Linked DNA regions of Homo sapiens. The protein of the gene in region 1 purifies or fractionates together with the protein of each later gene. This does not show direct contact. Each region holds a gene or a part of one and is shown on either strand. Other genes may lie near its edges.

Region 1 (4,521 bases):
ACAACTCCGAATATATTAAAAACCACCGAATTTTATACTTTAGATGGATGGATTTCCTTTTTTTGTGAATTATATCTCAACAAATCTATTTTTTAAGTTATACAATAAGTAACCAACAAAAATAATCACATACATATATGTAGATTCTATCAACTACACGTCAATACTAAAAATTTCATTAGGGCCCTACTGTTATTCAGTGGGTCTTAATCTCTATAAGCCTCTCTGGTAGTAGAATAAAATACTAGAATGGGCAAAAGGGAATGTTCTTCTGTCTTAAAAGCCAGGGACCTTTCCCCCTGACAGAATATGATCCATTAAAGGACCTTTGTCATTAATTTCCTGACAACTGGTTTACCTGCTTCAGGCCAACAATGGATTTTTCAACAAGAAATGTAGTCTAAGGAGAAAGCCATCTTTCCTCATCTGCAACTGTGACACCATGACCTTCTGCCTTCCCCTCCAACACTAGAATAACTTTCAGTCTCAAAGTCCTTAAAAAATAAATAAATAAAAGTTTCTCCCTTCAACATTCTGCAGAACATCACATTCACTACTGGCATTCCCCACTCCTACTCCAACCTCACCCTCCTGGCAGCAGTGATAAGTTCTGCCAGTTAGTGTTCCATGTGGAACTGCTGAGACTTTATTAGGAGAAATGCCATTAAAAATAATAAGATACCAAAGGTGGAAGACACAGCCCATAAAACAAGAGTATGAGGGGCAAGGTGGTTGGCAGGCTTCAAGACAAAGGTAGACAAATAACTTTCGGAGTTCAGAGGGAAGATACAAGCCAAAAGAGTACCAAGGTGACATTTTAAAGAACTGTCCACTTCCACTTTGTCTGCCTGGTTTTATATGAAGTGCTGTCAGCACAGCCTTTTCAATCATGTTGCCTGGATTGAACATAACTCACTTTCATATGTACCTTTAATTTCAGATCCCAACCTTTGTCCTCCTAATTCCTACAAAGTAAACTAAACAGACCAGCAAATGTTGACTTAACGATTACATTTTTACATAGAAGGATATAGAACTTACCACTCTTTTTTCCCTGAAATCAATGCCCACTGTTGTGATAAATTTGGAGTTAAATTTACCATCTGTATATTGGTAAAGTACACTGGTCTTCCCTACACCAGAGTCTCCCAAAGCTAAAAACTTGATGAGGTAATCATAATCTCCATCAGACATAATGAAGAACTCAGTAGTTCACCTGTAAAATACACACAAAATTTTTTAATTAAAATCCATTAGAAAACATTAATTATCCATTTAAAAAGTGACAACAATATTCAGTTTAACACCTAATGTTAACCTGTATGTCTACGGGTTGTATGAAAAGAGAGTTACATACATATTGTTCACCATCCTTGAAGACCTAATAACTAGCTAGATGAGAAGCTATTGAAATAGTAATTAACAGTGTAGTTTTAATTTAACACACAGGTAATCCCAGCACTTTGGGAGGCCAAGGTGGGCAGATCACCTAAGGTTGGGAATTCGAGACCAGCCTGACCAACATGGAGAAACCCCATCTCTACTGAAAATACAAAAATTAGCCAGGCATGGTGGTGCATGCCTATAATCCCAGCTACTCAGGAGGCTGAGGCAGGAGAATCACTTGAACCTGGGAGGTGGAGGTTGCAGTGAGCCAAGATTGCGCCATTGCACTCCAGCCTGGGCAACAAGAGCAAAACTCTGTCTCAAAATAAAAAAATAAATAAAAATAAAAATAAAAATAAAAACATACATATTATAGTACCATTAGGACAAAAATTTCAAGTGGGAATGATAATCAACAAGAAGGTAACAGTCACTAAGTCTTATCTGTAGACCATATAGAACAAAAACTAATACAAGAAAAACAGAGGAAAGAGAATGTTATAAGGAATAACAGTAATCATTAGAGTGCAAGTGGTTCCAATTTCCCCTCCTTTTTCAAAGTCTCCTAGTGCTAAAATTTGCAATTGCAAACATAAGGAACCAGTCCAAATGCTCACCAGTCAATGAGTAGATAAAGAAATTGTGGTACACCACAATTTTTTTATCTGTATATATATACACACACCACGGAATACTACTCAGCCACAAAAAGGAACGAAATAATGGCATTCACAGCAATCTGGATGGAATTGAAGACAATTATTCTAAGTGAAGTAAGTCAGGAATGGAAAACCAAACATCATATGTTCTCACTCATATGTAGGAGTGAAGCTATGAGGAAGCAAAGGCATAAGAATGATACAATGGACTTTGGGGACTCGGGTGGAAAGGGTGGGAGGCGGGTGAGGGATAAAAGACTACAGATTGAATACAGTGTACACTGCTTGGGTGATGGGTGCACCAAAATCTCAGAAATCACCACTAAAGAACTTATCCATGTAACTAAACACCACCTGTTCCCCAAAAACCTATGGAAATAAAAAAAAAAGAAAGAAAGAAAGTCTCCTAGTGCTAGAACCTTGCCTTTTCTCTCTTTTTACATGGACATCTAGGCAATTTCATTTATTCTATTCATTTTCACATGTTATTACGGTTCCTTCAAAGACACTGTTATTTCACAAGTAAATTTAGTCCCTGCTTCCTTACATATTACTATTAATATGTACTACATATTAAGCCAGACTTCTCTAGAGTATCACTGCTCACTTGGGAACTGAGTTCCAGATTTGAACAGTCACTGCTCAGAGACCACAGTGCCACAACCAAGGGCTCGCTTACCTATGTTTACCTGGGTACTCTATCAAGAACTGCTAAAAATTCAGCTCTTCAGTACCGACTAAAACAAAAGTCCACCTTAAAGAAGAAAAATTCATTTATATCAGCAATACCTAACCACGGCTATTTTTGGTTCTTTGCAATCAGCACTTTTCATGATTTGTATTTACCTTCTAAATAGATTCAAACCCAAAATATCAGTCCAACTAGAAATGGGATCTCTCTCCAGGGGAGGTTTACTTTTTCATTAAAATTTTATTGATACATAATATTTGTATATTTTTATGGGGTACATGTAATATTTTGTTACATGCATAGAATGTAATGATCACATGAAGGTATTTAGGGTATTTATTTCCTCGAGTATTTATCATTTCTATGCATTGAGAACATTTCAAGTCCTCTCTTCTAGCTATTTTAAAATACACAATACATTTTTGTTAACTATAGTCACCCTAGTCTACTGTTGAACATTAGAACTTATTCTTTCCATCTAACCATATGCTTGTACACATTAACCAACCTCTCTCCGTTTCCCCCGCCAATGCCAATAAACTCTCCTGAAAATCATAAAAACAACTAGCTATCTCATTAACACTGACGACTCTACATGACTATTCAAACATACATATTTATCCATCTATACACATGCCAGATGTCCTACATTGGATGCTACTGACTCCCGGCGTTATCCCCTTTTTACCCAGCACCATATCCAGAAACTTGGCTGCCATATTCAGTGCTTCCTGTAGGACTATTTCTATATATCCATAAAATTAATAAAAACTCAGACAAGAATATTTACTGGTTTTCAGTGTTACCTCCCTCACCCCATCCTCAACTTGGGGACTCACCTTATGCTGAAAACTCCTGAATGCTGAGCCCCAAAAGCCACTGCAGTGTGTTTCCTCAGAGTGCTTCAGTGCAGATCTGCAACCTCACGTTTCAGGTATGGCTAGCCCGTGGATAAGGGCAGAGCCTCTACAAACATTCAAAATTCTATTTGCACACTATAAAGAGTGACACTTCACAGATGATGCCTTACCTGTCTTTATAGCTTGGATATTTGCAAGTATAGGTCACCAGTATTAATGACATATAACAGAATTCCTCTCCAAAAAACGACAACTTGGACATCAACATTATAGCACGTCATATCACAGCATCACACCTGGCTCTAAGTTATTGGAAATAAGAGCTAAGAATTGAAAAGCAAGTCCAGATAATGTTGACTCATTTGAGGGCTTCCCCTCAAACTGAATGGAGCAGCAGATAACAATACCGATCCTGCAGTGAGAATGATGCAAGAAGACACTGTGACTACCTTATTTCCTATTTATTTTTAATTTGAAAAAAAAGTTGGTATAACTATGTTTTTTACATCACTTAGGGTACAGGAAAAAATGCTGTCACCAATGGCATCATATTCTAGAATTCTCTAAACTCACTTAAGTGGAATTCAAAGACTTAAATGAAACTATCTCTAATGTGTTTCATTTCCATGGGTAATCACACATGTAAGTCTACAAATGATCTTCGTGAGTTTTGTTTTCTATTCACAATAGCAATACTGACCAAGTAATCATAAAGGGACTGTTAACAAACCAAATACCATAAATTGAAGGTATAGACACCACCATCAATATTAATCATAGTTTGCACTTTTCAGATTGTATCTTTAAGACAATTATCTGCTTTCTTGATCTGAAAATAAATGTTCAGACCTTCCACTCTCTGGGTTCAGTTTTCTAAAGGGTAAAACAGAACCCAGAGAGGTAGACTGATTTGCACGATCTAGAA
Region 2 (4,521 bases), on another chromosome or scaffold:
GTATTGCAATTAATTAATTTCCTGTCTGCCTCCCCCACTGGGCTGTGAGCTCACTAGGGGCACCTGTAGTCCTAGTACCCAGCATGAGGCTTGGCATAAAACCTGGGAGAGCCTCGGTGGCTGTTGTTGAATGAAGTAGCGAATGCTCTGCTTGATGGAGAGGTCTGTGGCACTGTCATGTTTTAACTTGGTGTGTGCCCAGGTTTTCTCTCAGGTAGAGAGGACCCCTGTTCCTCTGCAGTGCTGGGGTCGGGGGGTGGTGGCCTTTGTTAGGTGGGGTTCCTGGCTGGCTGGTTGGCAGGCTGGTTGGTCAGGACTCCCTCTCCTGCTGATGTCTGGGCTCTTGTCACCAGATGGGACTGAGTATGGGCTGAGTGAAGCTGACATGGAGGCCTCCTACGCCACAGTGAAGAGCATGGCGGAACAGATAGAGGCCGATGTCATCCTTCTGCGGGAACGGCAAGAAGCTGGGGGCCGCGTGCGTGATTACCTGGTCCGGAAACGAGTAGGAGACAATGACTTCCTGGAGGTCAGGTGAGGAGGCCGCGGGACATTTTGGGGTCCCCATTCTTCACAGAGGTTGGTGACTGAGCCTGTGGCACTTGGCGTGTCAGCTCCATCCTTTCCCCTCCTGAGGCGGGGAAAGAGTGTCCAGGTGTCTGGAGACGTGGGCTCCTTGCTCTAATTCTGCACTTCCCTGTCACTTTGGGAAGAGCACGAGAGAGGCCAGCCGTGCATTCTGTGGCCATTCTCTGTGGGTGTGTTTCTTTTCCCTTCAGCCTGTGAGCCTGGAAACCAGGGTCATGGAGAAGAGCCTTTTGTGCCTCTGGTAGCCTTGCGGCTCTTCCTGGCAGCACCCAGAAGCTAGTGGGAGTTAAGGGAGATAGCCGCTGTGGGAGTCTGGGCCCTTCTGATGACTCTACAGCAGCAGCTCTAGGAACCTTCCCACTGTGCTCCTCCGGCTCAAGGAGGAGCTGTGAGCCGGAGGGGATCGGGGCAAGCCTGGACTTGCGGATCCAATTACTGGGGTTATGATGGTCGCTCCACCTCACTCATTCACTAACTCTCACATAGATGTATGGGTTCATCTACACGCAGGGTAGCAGTGGTGGGCAACGTGGATGCTGGCAAAAGCACGCTTCTGGGGGTCCTGACACATGGGGAGCTGGACAATGGCCGAGGCTTTGCCCGCCAGAAACTCTTCCGCCACAAACATGAAATTGAATCTGGTCGCACCAGCAGTGTGGGCAACGACATTCTGGGCTTTGACAGTGAAGGCAATGTAGTGAACAAGCCTGACAGCCACGGCGGCAGCCTGGAGTGGACCAAGATCTGTGAGAAGTCCACGAAAGTCATTACCTTCATCGACTTGGCTGGTCATGAGAAGTACCTGAAAACCACTGTCTTCGGCATGACAGGCCATCTGCCTGACTTCTGCATGCTCATGGTGAGTGGGAGGCGCCCCAAGGAGGGGAGGCGTCAGCAGGGCTGCTTGGGTCTGGTTATGTGCAAGTCTGAAACTGTTCTGAGACTGAGGCCTGTTGGTTTGGGGCTTTGACATCGGGTGAGGCTGGCGAGTTTTGCAGGGGTGCCCAGTCCTCTGAGTAATGGTCTTCTCAAGGCTTGAACCTTGATCTCTCCCTTACATTAGACTAGGGAAGGTATCCTCTTGGTAAAAACCAGGTACCCTTGAAGACCTGTCTTATTTTTTGCAGAGGCATAGAGGAGGGTTTCTCCTGGGCCTTACTTGTTACCTTCAGAAATGTTTTCTGCAGAGGATTGGGCTACTTTGAGGAGGTGACACCAGGTAGGTAGTACCTTCAGAGGGGCAGGCCTGGGGAAGAAACGGAGAAGACAGCCATAGGAGGCACAGGCCACAGTCGAGAGGCCCTGAGAGGTGGCCTCCTGGAGCCTGGGAGGAGGATCGGCCAGTGCACAGCCCTTGTTGAGAGGCTCCTGTGTGTCTGGTACTATGTGAGGTCTGATGATACAGCAATGAACAGGGCTGTCCAGAGGCTCCCAAAAAGCTTAGGGTCGAGCGTGATTAAATTTTTAAGCAGCTATTCCTGCTCGGAACATTAAAAACAACCAAAAAGTGTTTAAGCAGCTCATCTAATAGATTAACTGAGAAAGAAAGGGAGCAGAGGGCTCTGTGTTGGATCTCATTGCTAAGCTTGCCTTTGTGACCCACTGATCTTCCTCCCTGGACAGACAGTGGGAGTGCTGAGGGGAGCGGCAAGGCCTGTAACCTTGTGCACATCTCCACAGCTTTCACAGCAGGAGTAAGGAAGAGGGAGGGCGGGAAGGGACAGAGTCAGAGACACACATGCCTCGAGTGTTCCCTCGGCAAGGCCTTCCCAAAACCCTTCCCCATTTCTCGATTCCTTCAGCTGCCTGTATTAATAAATGTAGTAAACATAAGCATCTGTTCATAGCAAACTTGATCAAGTTGCTGCACAAACACAGGTTCTCAAGCAAATTCTCCCTAAACTGGAGAGCAGTAAAGAGAGGCAGAGCCGTGTGAACACTCGTAGGCTCTCTGCCTGAGGCTTTTGGGACCTCAGCATGCCTTCATTTCCCATTTCCTTCAATGTTGCAAAGGGCCATGACCAGCTTCTTGACTGGGCTGAGGAAAGCTGCTTGCCAGGAAGGGATCTTAGTGGAAGATCCAGAGGGCGTATTTAGGGGAGTTGTTGGGTTGATATTAAGAAGGGTATAGAAACTGGTTGAGAATAAGCATTTTTCCAGCTGAGCTACAGTGAGTAAGACCAATTAATGGAAATATCTTCACCCTGGACAAAATGTTACATATATATTATCTGACTTTTTGGTTGTGATCCAAATGTTAACCTTTCTGTAGAAAACAATGAAATATTTCATTATAGTCCCATGGCATTTGACTTCTAGGAAAAAATATTTAAAATATATAGAAAACAGCCGTAGAGCACTCTCTTCTCCAGGTTGGGAAGAGCAAAAGCAAGTCTGCATTGGGTTGGAAAGGTGGCCGAAGGGCACAGGAAGACGTCGGGAAGACTGTGGAAGTGTCCTGGTGGAGGGAGAGGGAAGTGCCAGCTGGGGTGACTCATCTAGGAGCCATGGAAACTCAGTGGGCGTCTCCGTGACACACTGGAATGGATAGGGCACTGTGTAAACACATCATGGCAGCTTTTCTTTCAAATTTTCTTCTGGTTTAGTATGGTACAAAATTGTGAAAAGTTTCCTCCCAGAGGCAACCAGTGTTTCCAGTTTCCTGTGTACCTGCCAGAGATATTTTGTACTCAGATCAGCAAATGTGTATATGTTCTCTCCCTCCAATTTTAAACATTCAGAAAAGGTGAAAGAATAGTATAACCAATACCATAAATCCACCACTTAGATTTAGCAATCATTAACATTTTGCCATATTTATGTGTCTATATGGTGGGTACATATGTGTATATATGTTTTTTATTTATTTTAATTTTTTTTTTGAGATGGAGTCTTGCTCTTTCGCCCAGACTGGAGTGCAGTTGTGCAATCTCAGTTCACTTCAGCCTCCGCCTCTTGGGTTCAAATGATTCTCCTGTCTCAGCTTCCCGAGTAGCTGGGATTACAGGCACGTGCCACCACACCCAGCTAATTTTTAGTATTTTTAGTAGAGACGAGGTTTCACTATGTTGGCTAGGCTGGTCTGGAACTCCTGACCTCCAGCAATCTGCCCACCTTGGCCTCCCAAAGTGCTGAGATTATAGGCGTGAGCCACCGTACCCAGCCTGATTTAATATTTTTTAAAGAGACAAAGCCTCACTCTGTTACCCAGGCTAGAGTGCGGTGGTGCGACTGTAGTTCACTATAACCTCAAACTCCTGGGCTCAAGGGATCCTCCCATCTCAGCCTCCCAAGTACCTAGGACCACAGGCGTGCACAACCATGCCTGGCTAATACTAATTTTTTTAGAGACGAGATCTTGCTATGTTGCCAAGGCTGGTCTCAAAACTCTTGGCTTGAAGTAATCATCCCACCTTGGTGCCTCCCAAGGTGCTGGGATTACAGGTGTGAGCCACCGTGCCCAGCCAAGTATATATGTTTAGTTTGGTTTTTTTTTTTTGTGGCTGAATCACTTAAAAATAGTGGACATGTCTTCATCCCAGACAAAGTCACAATGTAGACATTGTGACTTTTCACTGCTAAACACTTCAGCATACAGCTCCTAAAAGTGAGGCCTGTCTCCTACTGTTTTTACAATCAAGAAAATGAAGAATAGTTACCTAATATCCTCAAATATTTAGTCTGTATTTATATTATTTCAGATGTTTCCCAAATATCTTTCAGCTGCTTTTTTTAAGCCATGAATCAGTCACCAGTTATCCCCCACTGCCTTTTATTTTCTTTCTTTCTTTTTTTTTTTTTTTTTGAGACGGAGTCTCGCTCTGTCGCCCAGGCTGGAGTGCAGTGGCGCGATCTCAGCTCACTGCAAGCTCTGCCTCCCGGGTTCATGCCATTCTTCTGCCTCAGCCTCCCAAGTAGCTGGGACTACAGGCG
Region 3 (4,521 bases), on another chromosome or scaffold:
CAAGTGATCAGCTCGCCTCAGCTTCCCAAATTGCTGGGATTCCAGGCGTGAGCCACTGTGTCCAGCCTTGTCTGAAATTTCATTACCAAGTCGGTATTAGAAAATATTTTGAACTAATAAATTAAAATGAAAGCACAACATCTTCATTACCTCTTTTTTTTTTTTTTTGAGATAGTTTCGCTATTGTTGCCCAGGCTGGAGTGCAACGGTGCGAGCTCAGCTCACTGCAACCTGCGCCTCCCGGGTTCAAGCGATTCTCCTGCCTCAGTCTCCCTAGTAGCTGGAATTACAGGTGGATGCCATGACACCCAGATAAGTTTTGTATTTTTAGTAGAGACAGGGTTTCACCATGTTGGTCAAGGCTGGTTTTGAACTGCTGAACTCAGGCAATCCACCCACCTCAGCCTCCCAAAGTGCTGGGATTACAGGCGTGAGCCACCGCACCTGGCGTCATTACCTTATTTAATCTTAATTACCTCCCGAAGATCCCTTCTCCAAATGCAGTCACATTGGGAGTGAGGGCTTCAAAATATGAATTTGAGGGGAACACAATTCAGTCTGTGGCATACCTTAAGAAGCTAGAGGGGAACAGAATAAACCCAAAGTATGCAGAAGAAGGGAAAAAGTAAAGATGAATAAAATAGAAAAATTAATGAAATAAAAGACTTTTCTCTGAAAAGATGAATAAAATGATAACTCACTGGGTGCAGTGGCTCACGCCTGTAATCCAGCACTTTGGGAGGCCAAGGTGGGTGGATCACCTGAGGTCAGAAGTTAGAGACCAGCCTGACCAACATGGTGAAAGCCCGTCTCTACTAAAAATACAAAAATTAGCTGGGCATGGTGGCGAGCGCCTGTAGTCCCAGCTCCTCAGGAGGCTGAGGCAGGAGAATCACTTGAACCCCGGAGGCAGAGGTTGCAGTGAGCCGAGATCGTGCCACTGCACTCCATCCTGGGTGACAGCAAGACTTTGCCTCTAAAGAAGACAAACAAACAAAAAAATGATAACTCTCCAGTCAGACTTATAAAAAGAGAAAAAAGATGTAAATCACCAGTATCAGGAATGAAGGAGTAGACATCAATATAGATCTTACAGATTAAGATAATATTTTGAATAACTTTATGCCAAGAAATTATACAATTTAGATGAAATGGAGAAATATTTTGAGAAACGCAAACTGCTGAAGATCACACAAGAAGAAAAAGAACCTGAATAGCCCCTATTTCTGAAAGAAATTGAAGTCATAGTTAAAAGCCCTCCCACAGAGAAAGCTGTAGGCCCTGGTGGCTTCACTTGTGAATTCTACCAAACATTTAAGGAAGAAATGTTACCAGTTCTACATAAAGTCTTTCAGAAGATAGAAATATCTCTGATCCCAAAGAAAAATCTAAAGAATCTACAAAGTAAGTTGCCACCTTACTGCAACTAAAAAGTTGTAGAGCGTTTAGTGAGGTGATAGGATACAAGGTCAATATGTAAAGACAGTGTATTTCTATGTCCTAGCCACAAACAATTAGAAGTTAAAATGAAAGTATACCTCACTTCAGCTGATTAAGAACAAGAGTATGAATTAAAATTAGACTGCTTGGGGCCAGGTGCGGTGGCTCACACCTGTAATCCCACTTTGGGAGGCCAAGGTGGGCAGATTACGAGGTCAGGAGCTCAAGACCAGACTCACCAACATGGTGAAACCCCGTCTTTACTAAAGATGTAAAAAATTAGCCAGGCGTGGTGGCGTGCGCCTGTAATCCTAGCTACTTGGGAGGCTGAGGCAGGAGAATCGCTTGAACTCAGGAGGCAGAGGTTGCAGAGAGTTGAGATTGTGCCATTGCACTCCAGCCTGGGAGGCAAGATGAGACTCCGTCTCGGAAAAAAAAAGTTAGACTGCTTGGGTATAAATGGGAGCCCTGTCATTGAGTAGATGCATGATTTTTAATAAATTTTTAAATTTCTATGCTTTGGTTTTATTGTTTATAAACAATTGTATAATCACACCTTTGCAGAGTTTGCAAAAAAAACATACACAGAAAGCCTCGATAGCTCAGTGTCTGCCACAGAGCTGAGAGAAACAGATGTCTACTCCCATTTTACAAACAGAGGTAGAGGAAGTGCCTTGCCTGAGGCCAGGGTTGAATTCTGCCTTCACCCATTTTGTCAGCAACACACTGGTGGAGAAGAGAGCTCTGGTGGGCACTGTTCTCTCAGGCAGGCTCAGAAGTGGGCGGGAGCATAGATACAGCTCCCACAGGGCTGTTTCTGCCACAGACATGGACGTCTCGCTGCCTAATGAAGTTCTATGCTGTGGTGGCCACCTCACCTGCATCTTGGGAGAGCCACAAGATTGCAGAGAGGATAGAACAGAGGATCCTGAACTCCAACCCTGTCATGGAAGCTTTTGGTGAGCTTGGGCTCCTTTGCACAGTATCTCAGTCCCATTTCCTCTGGGATTTTCCACCTTCCAGGGAGAGGGACAGTGCTTTGAGACCCTCTCTTGGGTGGGGGTGGAGGATGAGTGTATCCTTCACTGCCTCAGATCCCCAACCTCTCCCTGGTACTCCTTAGCATCATTCTAACAGAGGTCATGTCATTCAGTCCTCTTCCTCGCTCCAGCCTAGGCACACATAACAGTCGTGCTGGAGAAGACCTGGTGGCTTAGCTCGTCCAAATTCTGTCTTTCTATCCAGTTTCCTGATGGTTCAATGAAGGGTACTTGTTAAGGGATACAAGGTGATTAGTGTTTGTGTTGGCACTGGAACCCAGATGTGCCTTCCTGTCTAAAGTCAGTAGTGACAGCTGATTGTTTTTGACCTTTCCCTTCAAAGAAAGGTCCCTGACTGCCTAGGCTTGCTCATTCCAATTTCTTGCCAGGAATTTCTTCTAACTCCCCTGAATCCCACTTGCTAAAGCATGAGGGCCCATTTTCTAGTCCTGTCCCCTATGACATGAAAACCAACAAAGGGGCCTTTAGGTGACTTGAGCACGGGAACATGACCTCCAGAGACCTGCAGCCACCTTGGCTTATGAGGACTCTGCAAACCCAGGGGAGTGAAATAAACATAGGTGTGATCTGTAGGGAATGCGTGTACACTGAGGAATAACAACAGCAGTCGCTTTGGGAAGTTCATCCAGCTCCAGCTGAACAGGTAATAGCTGCTGTTGCCCTGGCTAGTGGGAGGATGGGACTGGGGAGGTTGAAAGTGGCTGGGGCAGTATCTGGCCTGGGCCACCCCTATGGGCAAAAACCCTGCTCCTCCTGGTGCATGCCCTTTACCTCAGGTGTGAGCTCTGAGGGTGATCTTTGCACCTGGAGAACTATAGCTCCTCTCCCCTTGGGGAACCCTGGGGCAGTGCGCTTATTCAGGCCTGGGTTCCTCCTGGCTTTTACTCTTGCTCAGGGACTTCAAGCTAAATTGCCACCTCTTTGGACCATATCCCTGAGCTTGAGGCTGAGACTTCGACTCCTGTCTTGGGGTAGAGCAAAGTGATGTGCAGAGGCCTTGGCCCTGCCCACCTGAGCTAGATGCAGGGGAATATTCCAGGACACCCAAGGACATTCTGAGTGGTCCCCACCCCTCAGTGCCCATTGGCTAAGTGGAAGAGCTTGGCGGGGAGTTGCCAGGTAGCAGGCAATCTGGCACACCCAGATTGCCAGACATGGCTATGGAATGAATGGGCAACTAACGGGCTCTGGCCTGTGTGTGTCCCAGGGCTCAGCAAATGACTGGAGCCGCAGTCCAGACCTACCTCCTAGAGAAAACTCGAGTGGCCTGCCAGGCTTCCAGTGAGAGGAACTTCCACATCTTCTATCAGGTTTGTGCCAAATGGGGCCACAGCCCCCCAGATGCGAGACAGGGATGGGTCCGTGTTTTTCAACCCCCCACTCCCCAGAATGCTCCATACCTGGTTCCTTCACCTAGCTTTTGATGGAGCCACCACTTTATCCTGCAGACTTTACATGCAGCACTTCTGCCTCACACTGCGCCTTGGCTCCCAGCACAGTTGTGGCCTGGGAGTATGTTTTACCTCCTCCATCAGACCAGAAGGTCCTTGAGGCTGGGACTGTATCTCTAGGGTGGAAGCCGTGTCACTCTTATCATTTTAAGGGCTCTCCTAGAATGGCATCTGTCGCTAACAGAACAAGGGCTTCCCTAGAGTTGTGCCTTTTCCATCGGACTGGGAGTCCCCCAAGGCATGGATAGGATATCTCCCTTTCTCTCAAAATCGGAGCATCCTTAGGTGATGGGTATGCCTCCCACGTCAAGACGACGGACTCCCTGGGCAGGAGTTGTCCTTTTTTCACCAGACTGCAGGTTTCCCTAGAGCAAGGTTCTTTTGCATCAGGTTGGAGACATCCAGGGCTATGTTTACGGCATCTTTTGCCCCCATACCTGCCGTGGGCTCTCGGAAGGGACCTCTGAGCCTTGTGATGTTGCTACCAACTCTCCTCTTATCCCAACCCCATGCCTGCCTATGCAGGCCTGGGCTTTTCTCAGACCCCCTACCCAGCCTCCCACCTACCC
Region 4 (3,601 bases), on another chromosome or scaffold:
CTGCCATTAACCTATCCTTGTTTGTAGTTTCATTTTATTTTTCCTTTCCATCCAAGTTCTCACTTTTTTTTGTTTTACTTCATGTATTTTTATGCTTTCCAATCTTGTTGAAGAGATATGGAGTACAAAAAAAACAAGTAATTCTGTTGTCTTGATCATTATTTTCTTTAACACAGAGAGCTCATGAAGAGTAAAGTGCCTTAATGTGAATAGAGTAGCTGCATAGAAAGAGTCAGTACATTTCATTAAACTGGAAATACATTCATTAAGCCTGGAAATTCATTTTCTTGAGGGTTAAAACAACAAAGTGTTGTTATGAATTCCAGATTATAGAAACTGAACTTCCAATGTGTTGATTCTTTAGAAAGATTTATTTTCAGGCTTATACTTTCTGTTAGGACTTTTTGTTTTCAAAGAATTCCAGGAAGCCAAGAAAAGCAGTCAGGCTACATAGAACAATTCTTGAAAATTAACAGAAATAATGCAAACACTGTATCTACTTCCAATAATAAGCTGGCAAGTTAATTCATGGTAAAATGTGCTACATTGTTTCCTGTGTTTCTTCAAAGCCAGGGTTTTGTTTCACAGTATAGACATTTGATTTATGTAAGTTTTCTTACCAATATGGGATAGAAATGGCCTGCAGAGTAGTGCATTTGACTGTTACAGCAGCATGTCTGTCAATGCAGGCTGTGTTGTCTGGGGTGTGGGGACCTTGAGCCTGCACCATGCAGGTTGCCAGGAGAAGAAAGAAGAAGGCACAAATACAATACTAAGGTCCATGAAAATAGTGTTTCTCAGCATCACTGCAATTTTCATGTGCATGATGAACCTTTTATTTTTAAATTTTGGAATAATTTTAGATTTACGGAACAGTTGCAGTGAGAGTGCAGAGGCTGCACTTTTCACCCACATTTGTACAAATCATGAGGAATTGGCCCAATCCCCTAGCCTGGGGCCTGGAACATGAGGGTGTCCAACAGATGTTATCACAAGAACTAACAGATCGGAGAGCATGTCAAGTCCTCCAAAGGGTCCTGAGTGGTTCACTTGCATTGATGGTTAACATTGAGCAGACTTACCTACTCTTCATTTTGGACCTTCCATCCTTATTCAGGAGAATTTGACAAAATTAACTTGCATCATTCTTTCTCAAGGAAAATGCAGAGTTCTGCCACTGTCTTCCCCAAAAGGCTTTTACATCAGGCAGCAAACAGGAAATGGGCCTGATGGTGGTCACAAGCTGAGAGTAGGAAGAAAGTCCTTCTGCAGGAAGTTCAGGGCATGTGGGACAGAGATGTGCCCAGCAAGAAAGAGGTGTGGGGTGACCACAGGGAAAGGATGCCTTAGAATGAGAATCTTTGGGGTCTAAAGTTAGGATTCTCTTAATGTTCCAGTGCATTCTACTGTGTAACAGATAGGAGATATCAAGTCTCAGTATATGTCTTTAAAAATCTGACTTGATTTTAGTTAAACATTAATATTTACAAAGTTATTTTAATTGCTAAAATAATCTAGCCTTTTTTGTTGTTGTTGCTGTTTTGTTCACAGGTGAACTTTGGCATGTACCTGATGCATGCATCATTGGATTTATCCTCCCCATGTTTCCTGTCTGTAGGATCTCAGGTGCTCCCTGTGTTGAAAGAGAATGTGGAAGGTCATGATTTACCTGCATCTGAGAAACACCAGGATGTTACCTCCTAAAAAAAATTTTTAGCATAAAGTTTCTCTTTTACAGTGATCTCTATTATTGTTAAGATCTGCAACTTGGTTCAGTAGAACTTGATGTTTTGAATAAGGAGAGCTCTTTTTCTTTAGAGGCAGGGAATGCTCTCACCTGCTTCCTTCTGCCTTTGACTTCTCACCCTGCAAATTTGCACTGGCTGTGCTCAGGAGAGCACTTCTGAGGCCTCAGGAACGAATGCTGCACCCACATCCAGTGAGGCTCCTGTAGGTATTTGAAGTATAATCACTTGTAATCAGATGAAATTTTTAATGAAGTTCACTGGGAAGATTGAACTTACTGCGGGTCCCTATTTTGCCATTTTCTCACATTGTTACTTTGTTTTTAGAGAGCATCTTTGGATCTCTCCAACCCGTTTGTAGTGAGGAAGGGAGTCTATGCCCAGTGATCCTGGGTATGAGAAGGTGCTCCTCTCCTCCCATGTACATGATGGTGTGGGTTTATGCTCAGGGGCCCAGAGGGTAACTTGTGACCACATTCCTTGAGGGGAGTTTCTACCAGAATATTTATATTCTGAGCAAAGGCACAGGCCAGCAATTCCTTTCCTGTTGCTTCCCATCCCTGGCCTCCGTCCTCATCCCCCACTGAGTTGATGCACTGAGGATGGCTCACGAGCCTGAAGTTACACTCAGTGATGGCTGTGCTTATGCAGGTTGTCATCCTCCCCTCCACAAGCCCACAGGATGGTGTTGGTCCATCACCCGAGAGCCTCCAAATCCTATCGAGGGAGGAACTTTGGCATTCAGGAATCCTGTCTGTATCATCTTTGACCACTGCTCCTGCAGCCTCCAGATGAAAATGTCCAGTGAGGAAATCTCATTCTCTAATGAAGTTACCCATCCCGCTGAGTTTCTAAGAAGTTTCTCCCTGTGCGGAGCTTGTGTGTGCCTTATCTGCTTCTGCATGACTTCCAGCCTGGGGTCTTACCCTGTCCTCTGGAGCAATGCAGAGTGAGTACATCCACTCCACATTCATTCTGCTGGCGTCCTTCTGAAGCCTGCTGTCCATGTGTGAACCCAGTCCCTTCATCATCTTCCCCCTGGATGGTTGTATTTTTCCAGTCACTTCTCCCCCAAATGTCTGCCTGCTGCAGCCCACTGCATCTTTTGAAAGCCTGTGCCACCCCATCTCTCCTGCTGCTCAGTTGGAGAGCAGGCTCCAGGCTCAGGCTTCCCTAATGTATCTGTTCAGAGCCTGTGGGATTCAGGGTCAGTTTGTTTCATTATCACATTTGTAGGACTTTGTGTTGTTCCCAGCACTAGGTGAGATTTGAAAGATGAGGTGTGCTCTGTTCTCAAGGATTGTTGAGATGGAGCCTAATGATTGCACACTCACGTGCTGTGAAGAGTTAAGGGTAAAAAGTACAACTCTGACTCTGGTTCCTGAGATCACCGAAAGAAGAGGCAAATGAAGTTAGGTGGGGTGGGGTGGGGTTTATTGTTTTGAACTGTTTATTAAAAACGCAACCTCTTCAAAGACTCAGCACTGCCACATCATATGAGTGGACTTGTCCTCATCAGCTAACTGATAGGAGAACAATGCCCTAAAGTAATGGATTTATCCACCTACTCAGGCCAGTTTCATGCAGGAGGGAACTTTCCAGATGGCACATTGCCCCATTTCCAAGACCTTCCGCTGACAAATGCATCATATTAATTATGATGGAAAACAAGTAAGAAGGCATGCTCTACAAAAATTAGGTCACTTGCCCAGGTGCGGTGGCTCACACCTGTAATTCCAGCACTTTGGGAGGCTGACGTGGGCAGATCATGAGGTCAGGAGATCGAGACCATCCTGGCTAACACGGTGAAACCCCGTCTCTACTAAAATACAAAAAATTAGCTGGGCATGGTGGCA
Region 5 (3,658 bases), on another chromosome or scaffold:
ATCCTGCTGGAGCCTTAAATAGGAGCCCAAAAGCTTTTCTTTCTTACTTTTTTTTGAGACAAAATCTCACTCTGTTGCCCAGGCCGGAGTGCAGTGGCACAACCTCTGCCGCCTGGGTTCAAGCGATTCTCCTGCCTCAGCCTCCCGAGTAGCTGGGATTACAGGTGCCTGCCACCATGCCTGGCTAATTTTCGTAGTTAGAGTAGAGACGGGGTTTCACCATCTTGGCCAGGCTGGTCTTGAACTCCTCACCTCATGATCCACCTGCCTCGGCCTCCCAAAGTGCTGGGATTCCAGGTATGAGCCACCACGCCCGGCCTAAAGCTTTTCTATTAATAATTTCCTGCCTCACCCTCCATCCCCTTCCTCCTCAGACACCTGGATTTCATTAGCATCATGACCTACGATTTTCATGGAGCCTGGCGTGGGACCACAGGCCATCACAGTCCCCTGTTCCGAGGTCAGGAGGATGCAAGTCCTGACAGATTCAGCAACACTGTGAGTTCCCAGAAGGAGGGAGGGCCAGGAGGGGGCCGCAAGACCTGCCATCTGCCAGTGCTCACACACCAATCTCTCTAGCCCTCAGTACAGTCCTGCAAGAGGGGGGTCATGAGGCCCATTCCACAGATAAGGAAACTGAGGCCCAAAGTCTGGGCATGCTGCGTTGCTCTGGGAAGGTGATCTGCAGGGTAAATGGAGTGAGGGCAGGGGGCCGAATGGGGAGAGGCTGGGAGCCGAGGAGGTAGGAGTCATTGTGCCCTCAGAGCCAACCACCTGATTTCTGCATCTGTCAAATAGTAATAGCCCCTTCCTATGCCTCAAAGGATTTTTTTCAAGAATGAAACTGTAAAATTCACTTTAAAGTGACATGATCCGTTCCCGGAGGGACAGGGGAATCCCCAGTGCACCATACACCAATAACCCCTGCTAAGGCAGCAGTATTAATTGCTCAACCTTCCGCACCTGTGCACTAACTGCTCACGTTGTTCCCACCCTACCCCACCCAGGACTATGCTGTGGGGTACATGTTGAGGCTGGGGGCTCCTGCCAGTAAGCTGGTGATGGGCATCCCCACCTTCGGGAGGAGCTTCACTCTGGCTTCTTCTGAGACTGGTGTTGGAGCCCCAATCTCAGGACCGGGAATTCCAGGCCGGTTCACCAAGGAGGCAGGGACCCTTGCCTACTATGAGGTAATGGAGTTGGGGAGAAGGTAGGATTCCCCCACACCACCAGCAGCCCTGGGGAAGGTGATTCCCCACCACGTTCTTGCTTTTTCTCCTTTGGGAATAAAGAAAATGTCCGGTTGCCCCAGCATGCCTGAGGAAGTGGAAGGGAGAGGTTAGGACATTTGTTGCTGAAAATCTCCAGCAGGTACAGGCACATGGGCCTGCACCACTAGGCACCTGGGATAGCCCTCTGGCTATGGGGCTGAGGTCTTCCTTCCAGCCCAGGAAAGAGCAGAGGTCAAGAGGCAGATTTTTTGTTTCACTCTAGCCTCTGCTACTCTGTGTGGCCTTGGGCCTGTCCTCAGTGTCAACCAGCAGGCCTCACATCTCTGTTTAAATGGAAGAAGCTAAGCAGGGCCAAGGCAGCCACCATCTCTGGGTCATTTGCCTCTGGTTTGTATAAACTTGTGTGATGCATGCAGCCTGCAGACCCTGCAGAGAGTGAGGCTGCAGGATGGAGCAGGAGCTAAAAGAGATTTGGAGAGTGGCGTCTCCTGGTGACCTGCAAGGTCTCGGCACGACTCCCCACACTGCCTTTTCCCTGTTATCTGCTCAGATCTGTGACTTCCTCCGCGGAGCCACAGTCCATAGAATCCTCGGCCAGCAGGTCCCCTATGCCACCAAGGGCAACCAGTGGGTAGGATACGACGACCAGGAAAGCGTCAAAAGCAAGGTAGGTTTCCCCAAGGCCACACCTCAGGACAAAGAGAAAGAAGGAGGCCCCGCTCCCAGCAGCCAGATTCCTGTCCCTTGCACTGAGGTCTGGGCTGGGCTCACAGAGCACATGTGCCCTGTACACACTCTGGGTCAGGGAACCCAGCCCTGCTCCTCTGGGCCTCCCCTGCCAGGTGCAGTACCTGAAGGACAGGCAGCTGGCGGGCGCCATGGTATGGGCCCTGGACCTGGATGACTTCCAGGGCTCCTTCTGTGGCCAGGATCTGCGCTTCCCTCTCACCAATGCCATCAAGGATGCACTCGCTGCAACGTAGCCCTCTGTTCTGCACACAGCACGGGGGCCAAGGATGCCCCGTCCCCCTCTGGCTCCAGCTGGCCGGGAGCCTGATCACCTGCCCTGCTGAGTCCCAGGCTGAGCCTCAGTCTCCCTCCCTTGGGGCCTATGCAGAGGTCCACAACACACAGATTTGAGCTCAGCCCTGGTGGGCAGAGAGGTAGGGATGGGGCTGTGGGGATAGTGAGGCATCGCAATGTAAGACTCGGGATTAGTACACACTTGTTGATTAATGGAAATGTTTACAGATCCCCAAGCCTGGCAAGGGAATTTCTTCAACTCCCTGCCCCCCAGCCCTCCTTATCAAAGGACACCATTTTGGCAAGCTCTATCACCAAGGAGCCAAACATCCTACAAGACACAGTGACCATACTAATTATACCCCCTGCAAAGCCCAGCTTGAAACCTTCACTTAGGAACGTAATCGTGTCCCCTATCCTACTTCCCCTTCCTAATTCCACAGCTGCTCAATAAAGTACAAGAGCTTAACAGTGTGTTGGCGCTTTGCTTTGGTCTATCTTTGAGCGCCCACTAGACCCACTGGACTCACCTCCCCCATCTCTTCTGGGTTCCTTCCTCTGAGCCTTGGGACCCCTGAGCTTGCAGAGATGAGGCCGCCATGTCCTCTGCCTAGCCGCAGAGAGCCCCAGTGGGAGGCCAGCGTCCTCAGATTCACCTGCCTTGGACTTAACCCAAGCATGGCTGATGGCCTTCCAAATATTAAAGTCATTGCCATCCAGATTTCTAAATTAAATTCCCTGTTGAAAGAAACGTTTTCTGTTTCCTGAAGGCTAGCAGGCCCTGGGAAAGAAGGCTTTTCATCCCAACACTCCCTCTCTTCTGATCCACAGGAAGGTGGTGGGAGCTCATCACAGGACCAGGTTAGAAAGCCCTGAACCCTGGACCCTCAGGGCCAGCAGGAAATGCAGATGTCATCTCATGCACCCTTCCTGCCTCTCGGGACTGGAGTCCCTGCAGAGTGCTTGAGAGATGGCCCTCCAGCCTCCCAGTGAGGGGCAGCCGATTACCTTGGAAGCAACCCATTCCGTGGCTGGGCTGAAATCTGTCAATAGTCCTAGTGCTGGGCTTAGCCCTTTGTTCTGTTCACCCCTCCCCTAACACTCATCCCTCCACCCATTCAGAGATCAAAGTACCTCTGCTCAAGCTGGCCTGAGATAGGAGGTCGGGAGGATGTGATGGGGTGACTCAGAAGAATAGACAGATTTTCAGCCTTTATGAGGTGGAGACGCTCTCATCAGGCTTCTGTTGAATTCCCAGGGCCCCAGGAATGCCTTTATCCAAAAAGGCTCCAGATACTCACCCCAGAACTAAAGAGAATTGATTTGTGGATTCTCTGATGTTTGGATTATCTGTGACTTAGGATAATCACAAATTGGCCTGATGGTTTGTGACGCCGGTTTGA
Region 6 (4,527 bases), on another chromosome or scaffold:
ATGTCCAAAACACCAAAAGCAATGGCAACAAAAGCCAAAATTGACAAATGGGATCTAATTAAACTAAAGAGCTTCTGCACAGCAAAAGAAACTACCATCAGAGTGAACAGGCAACCTACAACATGGGAGAAAATTTTCACAACCTACTCATCTGACAAAGGGCTAATATCCAGAATCTACAATGAACTCAAACAAATTTACAAGAAAAAAACAAACAACCCCATCAAAAAGTGGGCAAAGGACATGAACAGACACTTCTCAAAAGAAGACATTTATGCAGCCAAAAAACACATGAAGAAATGCTCATCATCACTGGCCATCAGAGAAATGCAACTCAAAACCACAGTGAGATATCATCTCACACCAGTTAGAATGGCAATCATTAAAAAGTCAGGAAACAACAGGTGCTGGAGAGGATGTGGAGAAATAGGAACACTTTTACACTGTTGGTGGGACTGTAAACTAGTTCAACCATTGTGGAAGTCAGTGTGGCGATTCCTCAGGGATCTAGAACTAGAAATACCATTTGACCCAGCCATCCCATTACTGGGTATATACCCAAAGGACTATAAATCATGCTGCTATAAAGACACATGCACACGTATGTTTATTGCGGCACTATTCACAATAGCAAAGACTTGGAACCAACCCAAATGTCCAACAATGATAGACTGGATTAAGAAAATGTGGCACATATACACCATGGAATACTATGCAGCCATAAAAAATGATGAGTTCATGTCCTTTGTAGGGACATGGATGAAATTGGAAACCATCATTCTCAGTAAACTATCGCAAGAACAAAAAACCAAACACCGCATATTCTCACTCATAGGTGGGAATTGAACAATGAGATCACGTGGACACAGGAAGGGGAATATCACACTCTGGGGACTGTGGTGGGGTCGGGGGATGGGGGAGGGATAGCATTGGGAGATATACCTAATGCTAGATGACACGTTAGTGGGTGCAGCGCACCAGCATGGCACATGTATACATATGTAACTAACCTGCACAATGTGCACATGTACCCTAAAACTTAGAGTATAATAAAAAAAAAAAAAATGAAAAAAAAGAAAAAAATAAATAAATAAATAAATAAAAATGAGGGAAGTGGGGGTTTGGAGTGTCAGTTTGTTTTTCCCATTCTTCCCATATCTTTCCTAACTTCCCATCCCACTTCCCAAACTGAGATGTCACCACTGGGACACTGACAACATTTTCTGGATAGGGGAGCCCCAAGCTGGGGACAATAACAGAGATGACATAAGCACAGAGAGGTACAAAGTTTGTCTTTATTACCCAAGAATCAGGAATGGAACAAATGAAGTGGGACGTTTGAGTTAGATTTCTTGGTTGGGACCCTGGTTTCATTACTGTCATGGTCACAAAACTGAGTTCTCAGCCTCCTCCCTGTCAGGTCAGGTGGCAGCAGCGGGCAGTGGTCCAGTCCACCACACTGCACTGGCAGTGGCAGGTGGTTTCCAGCTGAACATCCCACGAACCACAGCCATAGCCACAAGCACAGCCAGTGACAGCCATCCCTGCATGAGCACATGAAGCACAGACATCAGAGCTCTTGGAATTTAAGAGGAGGAAGGGCTACCCACAACCATCTTTCAACCCTGTGCAGTCAGGGGTAGAGCTAGGTTTCGTGGGGCCTCAAGCTCATTCAATTTTGCGAGCTCATTTCAAGAAAAGAAATACAGAAATCACAGAAACAAATATTTGCTGCCATGAAAGAGACTCATGCAAGTGAGAGACTTGGAACTTGGGAGTTTCAGTTTTCTTCGATTTGTGATAAATTCACCTCTCTGTTGGCCCCTACCCATCAAAACAGAGGAATAGATTGGAAAGAGAAATGAAGTATGTGATCATTATGGGACAATGGAGGAGAGGAAGGGCTGAGAAACAGGGGCATGAAGTGAAGGGGTGAAAGGAAGAGGCAGAAGCCCAAGATCCCCCAGTAGCATCCTTCAGGGAAACAAGAATGGGCAAGGGGTCTCTGGGAACCAAGAGTCATGACTCAGCCCCAGGGTGCCAGGGTGATACAGACCTGACATGGGGGAAGACGTAGGTGCAGGGAGATGGACAGGGGAGGATACAGGGCATCGTAGTCGCCATTCCCTCTCAGGGAGTTACTCACCAGCAGGGCAGGAGGACGGTCTGCCTTGGCTTTTGACACTAGCACACGAGAGCTTCTTGCTTATAGGAGAGGGACTGTACTCTGAGTAGGAAAGAAGAAAGGGTACATCCCATGAGCTATCCTCCCCATAATCCCCTTATCCCCTTCCAAATTGTCTTCTACCTTGGAGGTGACACTGTGTCCAGAATCAGCCTACTCATCAGCTTTTAAGGTTAGTTTCCTCATTTTTAAAGCAGAAGTAATAGTTGTCCTTACCTCATAAAATGGTTGTGGGAATTAAATGAAATAATCTACGTAAAACTTGGATTATACCTGGTTCATAATGAGTGTTCATAAATTACAGCTACCATTCTCCTCCACCTCTTCCTCCTCATCAGGAAAACCTCAGCTTTTAGCCAAGACTTCAAACACGGGTAGGGTAGTGTAGAAAGCCCTCATCAGGGGTTGGGCTTGGTTGGGATCTTGGGATGGGATAGAGACAAAGCTAGAGTTTAAGAACAGGAGAAATGAGCAAGGGTCAACCCCCCGCTTCCCCTACCCCAGTCAGTTACCTAGACTGTTGAGAACATCCTTGATCTTCTTATCCATAACGGAGTCTAAGGAACACTGAGTACTCCCCGGGTTGATCAGCTGGAGAAGGGGGATTAGGATGAGAAGGAGGCAAGAGGACGGCCCCATCCTGTACAGAGTCAGTGTCCTGGGGCTGGGAGAAAAGATGGAAAGCAGCTTAGATCTCTGAGCTCCTGGGTGGTGGTGAAGGAAAGAAGACAACGTGGTTAGTTTCCAGGGAGTAAAGATGGAAGAACAGCGTCATCAGTACTGGATCTCTTTAGGCAGTTTGGAGAAGCAGGTAGGGTTGCTGAAGAACAGATTTATTCACCAAAACATTCAGAGAAGGTCTACAAGGACTAGCCAGGCAAGGGCGTTTTAATACACCTGGTATTAACCTGGGCACCTTTAACATACAAGCACACACAAACATGTAAACACACTCCCAGCACACTTTCAAAGACCTGTGCCAGCTAGGGTAACAGGTGACTGTGATAAACTTTGGAGTGTTCATGAGAAGCAACAGCTGCCTTTGCTCTGGATCTCTGCCAAGGGAGTCCTCCTGCCTTTTTGTTCTCCTTCTCCTTTCTTCTTGGCAACCCGATAAGGCTAGCACCTGGGCCTTCTGTGGTCTGCCGGTATTATAGGCTTCTTGTTTGATCCTTCATCAGGAAGAGGTTACTTTGCAGTTAACAAACAAATTAATCCACCCATCATCTATCCCAAACCCAAGTGTATGCTCTTTCTTATCTCTGTTGGCTGAGGGAGGGCCCTACTTGTCACCTGTTCAGACACCATTTTATTGTCCCTGGCCAATCTCATTTGGAGGAAAGTCACAGAAAGACTAATTAATCCTGGATTAAAAATAAGGAAGTTCAGTATTTACTTAACTAGAAGCATGGTTTATGATTCCAGAGTTCTTTTGGGGGCTCATAAAGTTTCCCTTTTTCCCCCACCATTCTCAGCTAATCTTTCGATCTTGTCTCCTCATGGTCACAAGGTAGAAGGTGCCACATCCTCAGCCCAGACCCTGAGCAGGAAGGAAGGAGTGGGGCAAGGCCACTTTCTGTAGGGGCTTTACCTTTTTATTTTAAGAGCAAGATCTTTCTCTAGAAGCTCAAGAAGATTTCCCCTTACATTCCACTGTTTGGTTCTGGGTCACACAACCTCCCTTTCTATCAGCTATGGCTGAAAAAGAGAGCTGGGCTTCACAATTCCTTATCCAAGACCTGGGGCCCAGGTATGTTTCAGAACTCAGAATGTTTCAGATTATGGAAGGTGCAAATTCTGTATATTATGTTAAACCACCAAGGAGGTTGGGGGCAGCACTCTGCAGTCTAATGCATAAATAGCCTGATGCAAAATGTATGAATATTAATGTGGGATAAATAAAAGACCATAAAGAGCCTCACACCAGGCCATGCCAAGTTTTTCTGCCAAATGAGTTAGCCTCAAATTTAGGACAGAACATTTTCATCTTTAGAGCCTTTTAGATTTTAGAATAATGGATAAGGGATTGAGGACTTTGAGGATTCACATATGGCCAAGAGGAATGAGGATGCCATGATTCCTCATCTAGGATGGGGCATGTGGCCACCATGAATAAATAAAATTTAAAGAAGTGCAGATGAAGAAGCAGAGAAAGGGGCCATGTGTTGTGGCTCATGCCCATAATTCCAATACTTTGATAGGCTGAGGCAGGAGGGTCTCTTGAGCACAAGAGTTCAAGACCAGCCTGGGCAACATAGTGAGACTCTATCAAAAAAAAAAAATTTACTGGGAGTGGTACCATGCATTTGTGGTCCCGGCTACTTAGGAGACTGAGGCAGGAG
Region 7 (4,521 bases), on another chromosome or scaffold:
CAGTAATTGATGCAGAACTGCTCAAAGCTGTAAGGAAGGAGAAGAGCCCACAGTGGCTCAGTGGGGACACAGGACCAGGAGAGGGGAAAAGCTGGACGACGCCCCTGAGCACAGGAGGTGAGAAACACAGAGACAGTCCCCGGCTGGCTGGGGAGTCACAGGGCAGGAATGAGAGGCTGGAGGACAGAAGAGAGGGAGCAGGACAGGAGACCGGGAGGAGAGACGGGGGAAAGATGGCACCGACCTGTTATGCTGAAACACTTCAAAGCCATAAATATCCAGGAGCCCGAGAACCGTGGTGCTCCGCCAGCTGGGGCTCTCCACGTCCTAGGGCAGTCATTCAACCGAAGGCGTGGGCCCCCTGCGCGTGCCAGCCCCACCCTGCAGCACCCCCCGCCTCGCCGACGGCCCTCCCTTCTGCCTTGGGAGCAGTGTGGACCGAGCCCTCACCTTGGAGGCCAGCGACCTGTTGATCTTCCCGACGAGCCAGGTAAAAGTGCGGCTGTACACAGCCTTGGCGAGGGCGTCTCGTGCGTACGCGGCCTGCTCCAGGTTCAGCGGGCTCAGGAGCTGTGGACGCAGCGTGAGACAAGGAGATGAATGCCACAGAGCCTGTGCATCCCACCTGCTCCCAGGCTCAGGCAGACCAGGAAGCCGCCACCACTCTGCACTCCCAGCTCCAGCAAGCCTGCAGTATGGGGAGGGGTGCTGGTAGTGGGACCTCAGGGAGGACAGGTGGCCACCCCAGAGGGAAGGTGGTAGAGGGACAGGAGGCCTCCTTCCCGAGGTGGGAGTCTGGTTCTAGCCGGACTGTTACTCTCTTCCTATGTGACCCTGGCCAGCTCACTGTGCTGCTTCTTTTTTTTGAGACAGAGTCTAGCTCTGTTGCCGTGATCTCGGCTCACTGCAACCTCCACCTCCCGGGTTCAAGCGATTCTCCTGCCTCAGCCTCCCGAGTAGCTGGGATTACAGGCGCCCGCCACCATGCCCGGCTAATTTTTGTATTCTTAGTAGATGGGGTTTCACCATGTTGGCCAAGATGGTCTCGAACTCCTGACCTCAGGTGACCTGCCCACCTCAGCCTCCCCAAGTGCTGGGGTTACAGGCGTGAGCCACGGCGCTCGGCTCTCACTCTGCTTCTCTGAGCAGCCTTCCTTCCATCCCTCCAGCATTGCTGAGGGAACCAGGCGAAGGGGAGTGATGGGAGTAGGGGCTGCCTTGGAACAGCTGCCCCTCCACACCCGAGGGCAAGGGCCCGGCCTCACCTCCTCCCCCTTGGCGATGATCTTCCTGTGTGTCAGGGCTTCTCGCAGCGTCGAGCCTTCCACGCTGAGGAGCTGCCAAGGGCAGGCGAGGACACGGTGAGGGTGCACCCCCAGCCCCCGCCCCCGCCGTCCTCCCGTCGCCCTCTGCCCGCCCCACTCACCCTGGTCAGATACTTGAGCTGGTTCTCGGTGGTGACCTGGGCATTGCTCTCCTCGTTGGCAGCAAAGTGGATGTTGCCCAAATGAAGGACGCTGGCCACGATGCTCAGCAGGTCCTGGGGGAGCAGGCCGGGGGCAGGAGGGGGTGAGAGGGGCCAGAGAGCCCCAAGAGGGCAACTAGCAGATGGCCATGCAGGGGTGGGTGGTGAAGTGTCGGAGAGAAGGGGCTGGAAGTGGGAATGGGTGTTAAAGGTGGAAGGTGATTCTGCGGGTGGGATGGGCACGGTGGCTGACGCCTGTAATCCCAGCACTTTGGGAGGCTGAGGCGGGAGGATCATCTGAGGTCAGGAGTTCGAGACCAGCCCAGCCAACATGGCAAAACCCCATCATTATTAAAAATACAAAAATTAGCCAGGTGTGGTGGCAGGTGTCTGTAATCCCAACTACTCAGGAGGCTGAGGCATGAGAATCACTTTAACCTGGAGGCAGAGGTTGCAGTGAACTGAGATCGCACCACTGCACTCCAGCCTGGGCGAAAGAGCGAGACTCCATCTCAAAAAAAAAAAAAAAAAAAAAAAAGGGATTACTGGCCCACGCCTGTAATCCCAGCACTTTGAGAGGCTGAGGCAGGCGGATCACCTGAGGTCGGGAGTTCGAGACCAGGCTGGCCAACATGGTGAAACTCCGTCTCTACTAAAACTACAAAAAATTAGCTGGGCGTGGTGGCGGGCGCCTGTAATCCCAGCTACTCGGGAGGCTGAGGCAGGAGAATTGCTTGAACCCAGGAGGCGGAGGTTGCAGTGAGCTGAGATTGCACCACTGCACTCCAGCCTGGGCAACAAGAATGAAACTCCGTCTCAAAAAATAAAAAACAAAAAAAAAAGGAGATTTTGGGGGTGTGACAGGAGGAAAGCGAGGGTCCCGGAAGAGGCCTCACCTCCACTTCATCCTCGGTGAAATCAATGACTGTCAGAGCCTTCCTGACGACCTTCCAGTCACTCTTGTCGTTGATGGAGGAGACTTTGGCACACTGGCCCTGGAGGAAGGGCACAGCTGGGTTGCCAGCCCTGGCACCAGATCCCTGGGTGGCACCTGCCCTCCCTGCCAGCCACTCACCTTCACCAGGTACAGGTAGCTCTGGGGGTTCCGTTCCAAGCCCAGCCTGCGAAGAGTCTCCTCCTCGCCCCCCTCCAGCAGCTGGTAGAAGATGTGGAAGTTCCGCTCCCCATGATTCTGGTGCACCACTCGTGACTTTTCCAGGAGGTAACTGAGGATGTGGCCACCCACGGGGGCACCCTGTGGGCAGGGCAGGGCATGAGGCCGGGTCACGGGGACTGGGAAAAGAGCCCACCTGCCCCTCTTCTCCCCTGCACTCCTGGGCTTTGGCAGCCAGACCTGGATGCCAATTCCAGCCCTGCCACTAGCTGCGTCGGCTCAGGCACGCCACCCACGCTGGACTCAGTTACTTCATCTAGGAAATGGGGAGATTCAACTCCAACGACCTGGCTGCTCCACCTGGATGCCTGACAGGTATCGCAAATTCAACAGGCCTGAAGCTCAACACCGGACCTTCTCCCTCTTCAAACAAGCTCCTGTTAGTGTCTGCCCTCCTTGGTCAGTGGTGACTACATCCTTCTCGTTGTTCAAGCCAAGGACTTGGCAGTCCTCCTGGAAGCCTGTGTTTCTCCAAACCCTACATCCAATCAGGCAGCTCATCCTGCTGCCTTAACCTTTAAAACATCCAGAATCCAATCACTGCTCGCCACTTCCACTGCACCACACTGGTCTGAGCCAATGTCACCTGTCACCTACATGATGACATCAGCCCCCTAACCGTTTTCCCTGCTTAGCCTGGTTCCCCTCCCATCTATTCGTCTACTCCCAATCTCCCAGTGAAGCAGCTAAAGTCATTTTTTTATTTTTTATTTTTGGAGACAGGGTCTTGCTTTCACCCAGGCTGGAGTGCAGTAGTGCAATCACAGTTCACTGCACCCTCGAACTCCCGGGTTCAAGCAATTCTCCTGCCTCAGCCTCCTGAGTAGCTGGGACAACAGGCACACACCACCGTGCCTGGCTAATTTTTGTATTTTCAGTAGAGGCAGGGTTTCACCATGTTGGCCAGGCTGGTCTTGAACTCCCGACCTCACGTGATCCACCTGCCCCAACCTCCCAAAGTGCTCAGATTACAGGCATGAGCCACCTCACCCAGCCCGATGACTCCCCTTCTACTCAGAGTTAAAAAAAAAAAAAAAAAGTTCTTGCAACAACCCAAAAGGGCCTGCACCGTTTGGCCTCTCTCTGTTCGCGGGCCCCTGCTCTCTTCTCTGGCCGCTGTGGCCTCCGTGCTGTCCTGGAACACTTCCAGCACCCTCGTATCTCAGGCCTTTGTCCTGGCTGTTCCGTTCCCGCTGCCTGGACAGGCACCTGCACAGCCTGCTCCTATCTCCATCAAGCCATTATTTTCTATTTTTTTTAGAGACAGGGTCTCACTCCGTAGCCCAAGCTGGAGTACAGTGGCATGATCATAGCTTAGGGTAACCTTGGACTCCTGGCCTCAAGTGATCCTCCTGCCTCAGCCTCCAGAGGAGCTGGGACAACAGACATGTGCCACCCTACCCAGCTGTCAAGCCTTTATTAAAATGCCACTTTCTCAGTGAGGCCTACCCTAATACGACCGCACCTGCCCCCCACTCCTTACTGCATTTTATTTTCTGCCACGGCCTCAATTTCCCTGTTTATTGTTTATCACCCTGGAAGGCAGGATTTTTGTTTGCTTTGTTTGACTGCTGGAATTGCAGCACCTGGAATAGTCCCTGGTACCCAGTAGGTGCTTCACACGTGTAGAGCCTACTGAATGGGAATCCTCACGACACACACATCCATGGTACCTTGAAGTCAAACTGCACATCCATGTACTTCCCGAACCTGCTGGAGTTATCGTTCCGGAGGGTCTTGGCATTTCCAAAGGCCTAGGAGTGGACAGGGGTATGAGGGACACCTGGCACTCTCCCCCTGCCCTCCCCACCCCGCCTTGTAGCTACTGCTGCCCCTCCCCTCCCGCACTGGGCTTCTCTCCCTGCCCCTCCCCTCCCCTCCC

The links.
Region 2: the proteins of RAB27A (region 1) and GTPBP1 purify together in Homo sapiens (affinity purification with mass spectrometry; one large-scale study listed by BioGRID and IntAct). This does not show direct contact.
Region 3: the proteins of RAB27A (region 1) and MYO19 purify together in Homo sapiens (affinity purification with mass spectrometry; one large-scale study listed by BioGRID and IntAct). This does not show direct contact.
Region 4: the proteins of RAB27A (region 1) and MOCOS purify together in Homo sapiens (affinity purification with mass spectrometry; one large-scale study listed by BioGRID and IntAct). This does not show direct contact.
Region 5: the proteins of RAB27A (region 1) and CHI3L1 purify together in Homo sapiens (co-immunoprecipitation; one large-scale study listed by IntAct). This does not show direct contact.
Region 6: the proteins of RAB27A (region 1) and RETNLB purify together in Homo sapiens (affinity purification with mass spectrometry; one large-scale study listed by BioGRID and IntAct). This does not show direct contact.
Region 7: the proteins of RAB27A (region 1) and MYO1C purify together in Homo sapiens (affinity purification with mass spectrometry; one large-scale study listed by BioGRID and IntAct). This does not show direct contact.

Annotation. Positions count from the first base shown.
Region 1 is NC_000015.10:55,233,741-55,238,261, forward strand, and holds part of RAB27A (ras-related protein Rab-27A), read right to left. Parts: intron 3,703-4,521; exon of another isoform or gene 2,725-3,702; intron 1,217-2,724; 5' UTR 1,195-1,216; coding exon 1,042-1,194; intron 1-1,041. UniProt on the Homo sapiens protein: Small GTPase which cycles between active GTP-bound and inactive GDP-bound states. In its active state, binds to a variety of effector proteins to regulate homeostasis of late endocytic pathway, including endosomal positioning, maturation and secretion.
Region 2 is NC_000022.11:38,715,554-38,720,074, forward strand, and holds part of GTPBP1 (GTP-binding protein 1), read left to right. Parts: intron 1-353; coding exon 354-534; intron 535-1,074; coding exon of another isoform or gene 1,075-1,098; coding exon 1,099-1,447; intron 1,448-4,521. UniProt on the Homo sapiens protein: Promotes degradation of target mRNA species. Plays a role in the regulation of circadian mRNA stability. Binds GTP and has GTPase activity.
Region 3 is NC_000017.11:36,513,736-36,518,256, reverse strand, and holds part of MYO19 (unconventional myosin-XIX), read left to right. Parts: intron 1-2,266; coding exon 2,267-2,399; intron 2,400-3,074; coding exon 3,075-3,144; intron 3,145-3,708; coding exon 3,709-3,811; intron 3,812-4,521. UniProt on the Homo sapiens protein: Actin-based motor molecule with ATPase activity that localizes to the mitochondrion outer membrane. Motor protein that moves towards the plus-end of actin filaments. Required for mitochondrial inheritance during mitosis.
Region 4 is NC_000018.10:36,266,982-36,270,582, forward strand, and holds part of MOCOS (molybdenum cofactor sulfurase), read left to right. Parts: intron 1-1,551; coding exon 1,552-1,704; 3' UTR 1,705-3,601. UniProt on the Homo sapiens protein: Sulfurates the molybdenum cofactor. Sulfation of molybdenum is essential for xanthine dehydrogenase (XDH) and aldehyde oxidase (ADO) enzymes in which molybdenum cofactor is liganded by 1 oxygen and 1 sulfur atom in active form.
Region 5 is NC_000001.11:203,178,002-203,181,659, reverse strand, and holds the end of CHI3L1 (chitinase-3-like protein 1 precursor), read left to right. Parts: exon of another isoform or gene 1-374; coding exon 375-498; intron 499-1,007; coding exon 1,008-1,190; intron 1,191-1,782; coding exon 1,783-1,899; coding exon of another isoform or gene 1,900-2,074; coding exon 2,075-2,215; 3' UTR 2,216-2,729; downstream 2,730-3,658. UniProt on the Homo sapiens protein: Carbohydrate-binding lectin with a preference for chitin. Has no chitinase activity. May play a role in tissue remodeling and in the capacity of cells to respond to and cope with changes in their environment.
Region 6 is NC_000003.12:108,754,362-108,758,888, forward strand, and holds RETNLB (resistin-like beta isoform 1 precursor), read right to left. Parts: upstream 3,050-4,527; 5' UTR 2,825-3,049; coding exon 2,698-2,824; intron 2,228-2,697; coding exon 2,147-2,227; intron 1,545-2,146; coding exon 1,417-1,544; 3' UTR 1,277-1,416; downstream 1-1,276. UniProt on the Homo sapiens protein: Probable hormone.
Region 7 is NC_000017.11:1,478,166-1,482,686, forward strand, and holds part of MYO1C (unconventional myosin-Ic), read right to left. Parts: intron 4,394-4,521; coding exon 4,313-4,393; intron 2,721-4,312; coding exon 2,541-2,720; intron 2,461-2,540; coding exon 2,362-2,460; intron 1,541-2,361; coding exon 1,427-1,540; intron 1,338-1,426; coding exon 1,266-1,337; intron 571-1,265; coding exon 451-570; intron 328-450; coding exon 245-327; intron 28-244; coding exon 1-27.